3 linked regions of the Homo sapiens genome follow. The protein of the gene in region 3 interacts with the protein of the main gene of each other region in a pairwise test. Each region holds a gene or a part of one and is shown on either strand. Other genes may lie near its edges.

Region 1 (3,751 bases), on a different chromosome or scaffold from region 3:
CTTCTGTCACCAACATGTGTGGCAGTACAGGTAAAACAGTTCAAAGAACTGGCTCTAAAAGTCGCGAAAGAATTTGAAACTCAGCTAGCTTGCTGTGCGATGTGGAGCAAGTTATTTAACCTCTTTGTGTCTCAATGTCATCATCTAGAAAATAGGGATAAGTACCTCCCTCATGGATGGGGTAAAAGGATTAAATGAGATAATGTGTTTTTCTTGGCCTTCAAAGTCTCTCCCCACTCATCCATCCTGTTATCTACTGTTCCCAGTGCAATCTTTGTTCATCTCTTCAGCACCCTCTTCGTCTAGCTCAGGGTCTGAGTAGGTCAAGGGGAGGATTTCTCATGAGGTGATGTTCTCACTCTGGCAGATCAAAAGGCTTTATTTGCTGGAGTCCAAAAAGAGACAAGGAGATTGCAAGGGAGACGGTGAATGGGGACGTTCTCTCTACACTCAAATCTATCCCAATCTTTCCATCAGCTGTTGATGACCACATGAAAACACAAGCCTGCATTCTTCTAGTCAGATGCATCAGGTGGTATTTTAAACTCTTGTCTGAAAGTCTTTCCCTTCTCCCGTAACACACACAGAGATAATCACAAAATAACAAAACATCAGTGTTGGAAGGAATCTTAGGACCCATCCTAACCTCCTCATGTTGCAGATAAAGAAACCGAGGCCTAGAAACTAGACATAACCTGCCCAAGGTTCCACAGCTATGCAAGTCAACCAGGACGATACAATCACCTTAGGAAGGGGAAAAGGCAGCAATGTGGTTTTGGCCAGTAATCTTTACCTTAAAGCGTATTACACACTCCCTGTAACTGCACACTCCGGTGCGTCCAAGTGACAAACCAGAAAACTTACTCTCCTTTGAACAAAAAGCGTGAGTTTCACGATACAGAGCCATTAGCCATTGATACTTCTCCCCTCAGTAAAATAAATCCACCCACAAAAAGCACAAAATTCCCAGCAGGGACATATACCAAAATAGGAAGTCTAAAATTATACTGATTTAGAAGACAGCTGAGATAACCATTAAGGAAGACCATCTTCACTGCAACCCACTCTCCCACCCACTCACCGCAAAACAGAAGGAAATGCTCTTTAGTAGATTGGGAAAGGTCACTCTCCCTGTTTGCAGGGCTCACTGACCACAAGAATCAACGCAAAGACAACCAGGGCACTGAAGGGTGAAGGGAGAGCAAAGCTGAACAGTGAGGGGCAGATCCGTGATTGAAGTGGTTTGAGAAATGGCAGGAGGAACAGGGCACTGGAATGACAGAGGGCTGGAGCGAGGGTCAGCAGGGCGCGCGGGTCAGAGGAGGAATGGAGGGTCAACAGTGGCTTCAGTGGGTCAGTAAGGATTCAAGGCATGAGTAGAGGAGGTTAGGGGGTCAGAAAGGTCCCAAGACAGAACAGGTAAGGGGTCATAGGGAACAGGGTCCCGCACAGAGAAGAGCCGGGAGGGTGTGCGCGCGCCGCGGACCTCCCATTGCTCCAGAAGACGCGCCATGTCTGCATCATTGTAATCGCGAATATCCTTCTTCTTCTTCCGGGGAGGTGGGGTAGACTCGTCGGGCGTCCCGGGCGAGCCTTCGGCCGCGCAGGACCCAGGCGGTGGTAGCAGTAGCAGCAGCAGCAGCAGGTCAGAGGCACAAAGCAGGACCACGGCCTTGCGCGCCCACCTGGAAGCCGCCATTTTCGCTGCGCCGCGCAGCGCCCTAGACGCGCTTACCCGACCTGCGCGGGCCGGACCCCGCCTTGCACACGCCTTCCTGTCCGCCTTTCCGAGGCCCCGCCTCCCGGCCCTCGCTAGCCTACCGGGCCCCGCCCCGTACCATTTCCTAACCCCCGCCTCTGGAAGCCCCGCCCCTCCGCCATTTTGGCCCCGCCCCACTGGCTCCTCCTCTTGGTCCGGCTGAGGCGCTCTGTCCCGGCTGGGTGGGTCCCTGAGTGCTCATTTTTCGTTTTCCGTCAGAGGCCGACCTTTTTCTCTGGAACGCACAAGCCAGGTCCAAAAGTTCCTTCAGGGCCTCCAGGAACCACTAACCAACGTCCCTGTTGACCTCAGTTTCTCGCCTGTGAAATAAATTGGAACTGGAAGTTCTGGAGGCTGCCTCGGCTCTAAAAAAGCCCATTTCTGGATGTCGGACGTTTATCCTCAGTCTCTTGCAATTTCCTTTGAGAACAGCCAGTTAAAAAGAAGTGAGTGGCAGGTAGGGCAACTTTTTTCAGAAAGTCATAAATAGTTCGAGTCCACTGCTTTCCTCATCAATAAAGAGGATTCAGTTCAACCAGCTTTCAATATTTGTTTTTTTTTTCCAAAAAGATCATTACTATTCATCCAAAAAAAAAAAAGCTTGCCTTTCTTTGATTTCAACCTAATACTGTAGGCTCTAACTAATCCTTTTCAAGGCTGAATCACGCTACTTTTTGTTTCTTAAAAAGATTTTGGCCAAAGATGCTTTGAGATTCTTCTTGTTTTAAACGGCTCATCAGCTGATGTCTTTAAAATGTTTAATTACATAAGACCTTAAAAAACAAAAAACAAAAAAAACCAAAGGCCGCACGGTGGCTTAAGCCTTTATAATCCCAGCACTTTGGGAGGCTGAGGTAGGACGATAATTTGAGTTTAGGAGTTTGAGACCAGACTGGGCAATAAAGCAAGACCCGCATCTCAAAAACAACAACAAAAAACGCTTCATTCTTTATACTGCTGCACAGTTTTATTTGGTATTGTTAAATTAATAGTTTATTTTCCTATTGATGGGCATTTATTACCAATTTTTCTGCTATTACAACAAAAAAGAGCTGTAGTAAACCTTATTCAAGCCTTGTTTGGATAGGATTAGTAGGCTGCATATAAAAGAAAACTGACTTTTTAAGGTGGTTTAAACAAGATAAAAGGTTTTATTGTGATTGACTTTTCTTTCACAGAAGCAGTGTAAACTCGAAACTAGGGCTGGTATAGTGGCTTCTCAGCCATCTGGTACTCAGCCTCTTCCTCATCCTTCTATCATATTAGCCTGTGGCTTCCACCCTCAAGGTCAGAAATTCCAGGATGGCTCCTGGAGCTCCAGTCATCAAGATGACATTCAACCAGAGGAAGGGAGAAGGCAGGCCAAACCAAGCACACCTTTCAAGTGGAGTCAACTTCTTTTAAGCAGCCTACTTGAACATTGCATACATTTCTGTTTACATCTCATTGGCTGGAACCTAGCTCTCCAAGGGAGGCTGAGAAATTGTCTTCTAGCTGTATACATTGTCATCTCAAATGAAATTAGGATTGTTATAAAGGGAAAAGAATAAAGTGGAGGTTGAGTAGGCAACTACGCCTGCTTTCCTTCACTCTTAGGACCAGTGCAATTTAAATTCTCTCACACCGTAGGAGTGGCTGATATTCTACATATTCATGCATGCATCTGTATGTAAACACGCTAAGCTATGACCTTTCCTATTGACGTTGAGCAGAAACAACTCATAAGAAAAAGATTTTTTCTTTTGTGAAATCATAGGGGAAATGTCATGAGCTTTCTCCCCAGAGCACATTGCTCCACCCAGTGGCTTGGAGCCCTATCCTAGTGCAGTCATACTAAAAAACATGCACAGCTGTGGCTGATCATGTGCTCTACTGGGAGGGGTCACCCTGGTAATTCATATTGCCAGCTTCAAAGTTAAGGGGCAAACGTGTTGGGATTCTTGGCCCACATATCTAGTTATAGAGAATAAGATCATTGAAAGTTTTACAGAA
Region 2 (3,751 bases), on a different chromosome or scaffold from region 3:
TCCGCCTCCTGGGTTCAAGTGATTCTCCTGCCTTGGCCTCCCAAGTAGCTGGGATTACAGGTGTGTGCCACCACACCCAGCTAATTTTGTATTTTTAGTAGAAATGGGGTTTCACCATGTTGGTCAGGCCAGTCTCAAACTCCTGACCTCAGGTGATCCACCCACCTCAGCCTCCCAAAGTGCTGAGAGTACAGGCATGAGCCACCATGCCCAGCCTACAATGTTTGTTTCTAAAAAGCATTTAAAGCAACTTACCATAAAAGCACAGATTTAATAACACCTAAAATGTAAAACTTGAATAGGGAAAAATGAGATCTAGAAATCCCTGCCAAGAACAGTACAGCGGTTTTTTATATCACGTTGAGCGCCTGTTATGTGTCATGTGTTATTCTGGATGCTGGGAGCACAGTGGTAAGACAAAGCCCCTACCTTCAATGAGATTATATTCTTGAGGAGAAGAAGGATAATAAACAACAAAAAAGCCACACAAGTATTTTCGTTGCTGATTAGCACTCTGTGGAAAACAAACATAAAAAATAATAGCTAACCTTTATTGAGTACTTACTACGTGCATTTTTAAAGTACATTAATTTAAACTTCACAACATCTTTATGATGAGGTAGTTGTTATTTGCCCCCTCTTACATATGGGTCACTTACCCAGTGGCTGAACTGGATTTGAATACAGTAGTTCAGCTCAAGAGCCGTTAATCATGATGTCATATTATCTCTTAAAAATTAAGAAATGTGCACGACTGAAAACCTTACTGAGTGTGGAAGAAGATATGGGTAAATATCATGGTAAATACTATGATTCTGAATGGGAAGACTTAATTTTCTTACAATATCCATTCTCCCCAAGTCAATCTGTAATTTCAACTTCTAATAAAAATCCTAATAGGATTTAAAAAATTGATATGTTGATATTAAAATTATTTTGGAATAGTAAATGTGCAAGAACAGCTGAGAAAAATTTGAAATGGGCTAATAACAAGAGGGATCTTTGCCTTTTGAGATCTCAAAATATATTTTAACATTATAATAAAGTAGCATACTTCTGATAGAATAGGCTAATAGTTCAATGGAACTGAAATATATTCATATATTTAGGGAATTTAGTTTATAGTTATAGTGCTATTTCAGATGAGATGAGTTTTCCCTAAATGATACTAGGACAATTGGCTCTCCATTTGGAGGAAAAAATTTAGATATGTATCTTATAGACAACTATAATTTCTAGGTGAATTAAATGATCTAAATGTAAAAAAATCAGAAAAATACTAGGAGAAAGTATGGGAAACATTATGACATTAAGATGGAAAAGCCAAAGGTTCTCCTACCGAAACACAGTGTTTACAAGATGAATGTCACGCTGAGAGATAGAACATCTATAAGAGAAAGGGTGAACATCCAGAATGTATAGAGTTCTTACAAATTGATTACAGGAAAGACAAACCAGTAGAGAAATGTACAAAGACTAAACAGCTGATTTTCAGAAGAGATTCAAATGACTAGTTACTATGGAAATAGAAACTAAAAAACGTGACTATCAAATTGTCAAAAAAAAAAAAGATAATATCTAATATTATCAAGGGCACCACCGCATAGATTGCTGATATTAGCACAGGCTTTTTAGAGAGCATTTTGGCAGTGTCTGTTAAGGTGAAAAAAATGGGCATATGTTCTGACCCAGCAGTTCTATTTTTAGGAATCTCTTTTCCAGAAATACTTGTCTAGATGTTTAAGAGTATATGTCCTTGTAGCATTACTTATAATGGCGAAAAATTTGATATAATGTAAATATCCACCAATTGGACAGTGGTTTAGCCTATTTATGGTATCTATACTTTATCCATAGTTTGAAGTAGTTTGTTGATATTGTATTGAGTGTTACACTACTTTGTAACATCAACAACAAAACCCAAATGTAAAGGGAACTGCAAGTGTAATCACTCAGCTTTTATTTTTCTCTAGCTATACCAAATGGTTTTGGTACCAGTCCACTAACTCCCTCTGCTAGGATATCAGCACTAAACATCGTGGGGGATCTCTTACGGAAAGTAGGGGTAAGTTTCAATTATTTATCACTAGGTGTTTCCACTGACAAGGTATTGAATTATTTCTTAATTTGAAGTGAGGGAAGAAAGAAAGGATACTTTCCTGTGGTAAAGGCTGTCATGAAGCTCAGAAGCAAAAGCATCCATTGACTAGCCAAGTCCAGATGACACTTCATGATGCCCCTGCAGAAGAGCCTGTACCTTGAACTCTGAGGTTCCCACCGGGGCATTCTTCCTGTTCCCCACTCCTGTTTCAACAGCACGATGCCTCTGTCCTTGTCTAGAATACTTTGTCTAAGGCCTGCTGTGTGTCTTCTACCACCCTCATCCTGGTCTTTGCTGCTGTCTACCGTCTTCCTGGTCATTCCTTTGTTTTGTGTTTGTGGGACTTTAACATTTGGCTCATGGCATTACTCTCTACTTTTAGTCTTGCCCACCTTATTTCCTTGGCCACCTCAACTTCAGTGCCTTCTCCTTGGTGTGAGCCTTGTATTCCAGAACAGTTTCGCTTCTGAAATATTAAACCCAGCCGGACGCGGTGGCTCACGCCTGTAATCCCAGCACTTTGGGAGGCTGAGGCGGGTGGATCACCTGAGGTCAGGAGTTCAAGACCAGCCTGGCCAACATGGTGAAACCCTGTCTCTACTAAAAATACAAAAATTAGTCGGCATGGTGGCAGATGCCTGTAATCCCAGCTACTTGGGAGGCTGAGGCAAGAGAATCACTTGAACCCAGGAGGCGGAGGTTGCAGTGAGCCGAGATCGAGCCACTGCACTCCAGCCTGGGCAACAGACAGCAAGACTCCATCTCAAAAAAAAAAAAAAAAAAAAAATTAAACCCGTTTTTCTGCTTAATCAGTGTGTTACTGTGTACCATACCTACTCTTTAACCTCATCAAGAGTATTACCCCATTTTTTAGTGTGTTTGTTTTTATCAGCCATCTCTTGCTTTCACTTCCTTTCTATTCATCTGTGATCTCACACATCTCTTACTCTGTCACTGTTGACTTCATGGTCTCTCTGGCCACAAAGGAGATCTGCAGTCTGAATTACTGGAAACAGTTGCAGAACCATGTGGATTTATGCCACTATCAAGTCAGCATTTCTAGCATTAGCTCCCATTACTATTTCCCTTAGTGAGTTTTACCTCTCCTTTCAGTAATCAACCATTGCCATTTCCCACTATCTACTACCCCCTTCACTTATTTTCGTGTGTGACACTTTCTAAAAAATGTAGAAATTGCATTATACTTTATCTAAAGCAGATATGGGAGGCCAAGACACAGGTCCTATGTTTGCCTGTTTCAGCTCATCATAGGGGTTATTTTCTAACCATCAGATTAAACCTGCATTTTTAAGGTTAAAATACAAAGTAAAGTGCACAGGTCGTTCCTACAGTACATAGAGTAATCTTTCTTCACTCCCAAGATAACCATTTTAAAATCCTCTATGTTGGAGTATTTGTCTTTATAACTTGAAATCATGTGCTTATTTTTCTGTTTATCTTGATTTACTCAACTTTAAGCAAAGATATTTTTATTTTTATTTTTTGTTCTTTTAAAAAAATTACTTTAACATTCTTGAACTTTTGTTTCTGAATGTATTAGGTTATATCTTTTTTTTTTTTTTTTTTTTTTTGAGAACGGAGTCTCGCTTTGTTGCCAAGGCTGGAGTGCAGCGGCACGATCTCAGCTCA
Region 3 (3,751 bases):
TGGGCAACATGGCGAAACCCCATCTCTACCAAAAATACAAAAATTAGCCGCCTGCGCCTGTAGTCCCAGCTACTCGGGAGGGTGAGGCAGCACAATCACCTGAGCTGCTGCTCAGGTGGGTCCAGGATGCAGTGAGCCGTGATCGCGCCATGCACTCCAACCTGGGCGACAGAGTGAGACCTTGTTTAAAAAACAATTTTTAGCCGGGCCAGGTGGCTCACGCCTGTAATCCTAGCCCTTTAGGAGGCCGATGCGGGCGGATCACCTGAGGTCAGGAGTTCAAGACCACCTTGGCCAACACGGTGAAACCCCGTCTTTACTGAAAATACAGAAATCAGCAGGGCGTGGTGGCGTGCCTGTAACCCCAGCTACTAGGGAAGCTGAGCAGAAGAATCGCTTGAATCCGGGAGGCAGAGGTTGCACTGAGCCCAGATCGTGTCATTGCACTCCAGCCTGGGCAAAAAAGAGCGAGACTCTGTCTTAAAAAAAAAAAAAAAAATTGTAAGAAAAAAATATTAAAGAAAAATCCCTAACTATAAGCCTTCGGGGAGACTGATTTGAGTGCTAACTCTGTCTCCGTCTTCGGCGTTGCGTGGTCCATCTCGTGTCAAACATTTTCTTTACTGCAATGCCCTGGTCTTTCTTTTTGCAGCACAGGCAGGAAGAACCCCTCAGGCGATTACAACAACAAAGCATCTAGTACACATTGATCATGATGTGAACAAAAACACGACAGCAGTTGCCAAGCTCTAAGCCACAGACAGCAGGGAAAACATTTATCCGCTGTCACAAGTTCTCCACGCTAGGCCAGGCGCGGTGGCTCACGCCTCTATTCCCAGCACCGGGCCTGTTTAAGTTTTAACAGGAGAAAGGGGGCACTGAGGGCCTCACAGCGCAGCTCCTCCCGCACGAGCCCCACACCCAAGGCGGGATTGCCCCCATGACCCTCCCGTGGCCCCGCACAATATGGAGAGGCTCCGGGCTGCGGGCGCGGAGCTGTCCAGAGAGGGCTCCCGGGCTGGGGCCGCAGTCGCCGCGCGGCGACGAGACAGGGCGCCCAGGGGTCCCGGCTGCCGGCCCAGCCGCACCCGGCGGCCGAATGGACCGAAGGCCGAGCTGCGCCAGCGGGGCTCGGGCCCCAGACCTCGAGTCGCCGCGGGGAGGTCCGGGTCCCGGCACAGCCGGTTCCAGCCAGTTCCAACCAGCCTCCGCCTACCCTCCCCCAAGTCTCGGGACTCCCAGCGGGGGCTCACACTCACCATTTCCTGGCTTTCAGGTGACTCCCACGTCCAAAGCAGTCACAACACAGACGACAGGGCGACAGAAGTATGGCGGTGGCAACCGGTCCCTCTCAGAGCAGGAAAAACGGGGTGCCAACCTCACCCGGCGGGAGGGGCCAAAGACTGAGGCGAACGGCAATGTGACCCGCGGATAAACAGTTGGCCGGGCCCCACCCCGGCGACTCTGATTGGGTGGAGCGCCAGGCCCCGCCCCCTGCATCCTGAGTGACAGCAGAAGTCCTGGGTAACAGGGCCAAGCAGAGCAGGACTGACCGCTTCAAGCCACAGTCCAAGGTCAAGTTCCCTCTCTACGCCCTGCTCTTTGAAAATTTGCATTTCGGCCAAACTTGCTCGTCTTAATTACTAGAAGTGGCTCTGTCAATGGTCTGTCCCTGCTTCTTCGTCCTGCACAGTGTCATAAGTGTGTGCAGGGAGTTCCAGACTCTATGTTTAATAGAGGTGAAAGCAATTAAAATATTTTATTCCAAAATATATTTATTTGGCAATTTCGAATGGCTGCAGCTTTGCCCTTGCACAACTGTCTTCTGGGGGGTGAAATTTGCGTCTATGGAGTATTTCCATTAGTGAAGCCATGCCCCCTCTCCCCTTTTCCCTTTCCCTGATCCGGGAGAAATTGAGAGTCTGACACTTTTAAAAGTCTGGAAAGCCGGGCGCGGCGGCTCACGCCTGTAATTTCAGCACTTTGGGAGGCCGAGGCGGGTATATCACCTGTGGTCGGGAGTTCGAGACCAGCCTGGCCAACATGGTGAAACCACATCTCTACTAAAATACAAAATATTAGCCAGTCGTGGTGGCGGACGCCTGTAATCCTAGCTATGTGGGAGGCTGAGGCAGGAGAATCACTTGAAGCTGGGAGGCGGAGGTTGCAGTGAGCCGAGATCATGCCACTGGACTCCAGCCTGGGCAACAAGAATGAAACTCCGTCTCAAAAAAAACAAAAACAAAAAAAGTCTGGAAAGAGGCCAGGCAAGGTGGCTGGGGCCTGTAATACCAGCACTTTAGGAGGCCAGGGCAGGAGAATCACTTTGGCCCAGGAGTCGAGGGCTGCAGTGAGCTGTGATTGCACCAGTACACTCCAGCCTGGGCAACAGAGTGAGACCAAAAAACAAAATAAGTAAGAAATTCTGGTTTTGCTTTTTTTTTTTTTTTTTTTTGAGATGGTGTCTTGCTCTGTTGCCCAGGCTGGAGTGAGTGACGCGATCTCGGCTCACCGCAAGCTCCGCCTCCCGGGTTCACGCCATTCTCCTGTCTCAGCCTCCCGAGTAGCTGGGACCACAGGCGCCTGCCACCATGCCTGGCTAATTTTTTGTGCTTTTAGTAGAGACGGGGTTTCACCGTGTTAGCCACGATGGTCTCGATCTCCTGACCTCGTGATCCGCCCGTCTCGGCCTCCCAAAGTGCTGGGATTACAGGCGTGAGCAACCGTGCCCGGCCAGAAATTCTTAAAAGAAGCATTTTGCATCCATTCTCTCTGTGGGAGTCTTCATCTATGTTGTGGGTGAGTGGCTACTATCTGGGCCAGTGGCGCAAGGGTAAAAGAATTTATCAAGACTGGCCGGGCGATGTGGCTCACACCTGTAATCCCAGCACTTTGGGAGACCGAGGCGGGCGGATCACCTGAGGTCAGGAGTTTGAAACCAGCCTGGCCAATGTGGCGAAACCCCATCTCTACTAAAAATACAAAAATTAGCCGGGCTTGGTGGTGGGCGCCTGTAATCCCAACTACCCAGGAGGCTGAGGCAGGAGAATCGCTGGAGAATCGGGAGGCAAAGGCTGCAGTGAGTCGAGATTGTGCCACTGCACTCCAGCCTGGGCAACAGAGCAAGACTCCATCTCAAAAAAAAAAAAAAAAAAAAAAAGGGATTTACCAAGACAGTTGTAGGTAAAAAAAAAAAAAAAAAAAAAAAAAAAGGCAGATTTATTAAGGAAAATATGAAAGTACCTTGCAAGAAGGCAACAGGCAGAACCAGCAGAAGGGAGCCGGCTGCAAAGAAACAAAGGTTTGCTAGAGATTTTATAGAATGCAACTTGGGAACTTGCATTGTTTTGTCACCTGAAATGTTTGATAAATCAAGGTTTTTGATGGTAAGCAAGAAATTTGTGAGTTATGTACATTATTTGTTTAGGAGGGCTATTTGTTCTGGGCCGTAAAGAAAGTGATACCTATGGCCAGGCACGGTGGCTCACGCCTGTAATCCCAGCACTTTGGGAGGCCAAGGCGGGCAGATCACCTAAGGTCAGGAGCTCAAGACCAGCTGGCCAACATGGCGAAACCCAGTCTCTACTAAAAAATACAGAAATTAGCCAGGCCTGGTGGCGGGTGCCTGTAATCCCAGCTACTCTGGAGGCTGAGGCAGGAGAATTACTTGAACCTGGGAGGTGGAGGTTGCAGTGAGCGAGATGCTGAGATTGAGTGACTGCACTCCAGCCTGGGTGACAAAGTGAGATTC

What was found.
Region 1: the proteins of ZNF844 (region 3) and MESD interact in binary tests that used the Homo sapiens proteins (3 or more experiments, as listed by UniProt).
Region 2: the proteins of ZNF844 (region 3) and NDEL1 interact in binary tests that used the Homo sapiens proteins (3 or more experiments, as listed by UniProt).

Annotation. Positions count from the first base shown.
Region 1 is NC_000015.10:80,988,093-80,991,843, forward strand, and holds the start of MESD (LRP chaperone MESD precursor), read right to left. Parts: upstream 1,728-3,751; 5' UTR 1,700-1,727; coding exon 1,487-1,699; intron 1-1,486. UniProt on the Homo sapiens protein: Chaperone specifically assisting the folding of beta-propeller/EGF modules within the family of low-density lipoprotein receptors (LDLRs).
Region 2 is NC_000017.11:8,452,823-8,456,573, forward strand, and holds part of NDEL1 (nuclear distribution protein nudE-like 1), read left to right. Parts: intron 1-1,973; coding exon 1,974-2,065; intron 2,066-3,751. UniProt on the Homo sapiens protein: Required for organization of the cellular microtubule array and microtubule anchoring at the centrosome. May regulate microtubule organization at least in part by targeting the microtubule severing protein KATNA1 to the centrosome.
Region 3 is NC_000019.10:12,062,385-12,066,135, reverse strand, and holds the start of ZNF844 (zinc finger protein 844), read right to left. Parts: upstream 1,406-3,751; 5' UTR 1,263-1,405; coding exon 1,260-1,262; intron 1-1,259. UniProt on the Homo sapiens protein: May be involved in transcriptional regulation.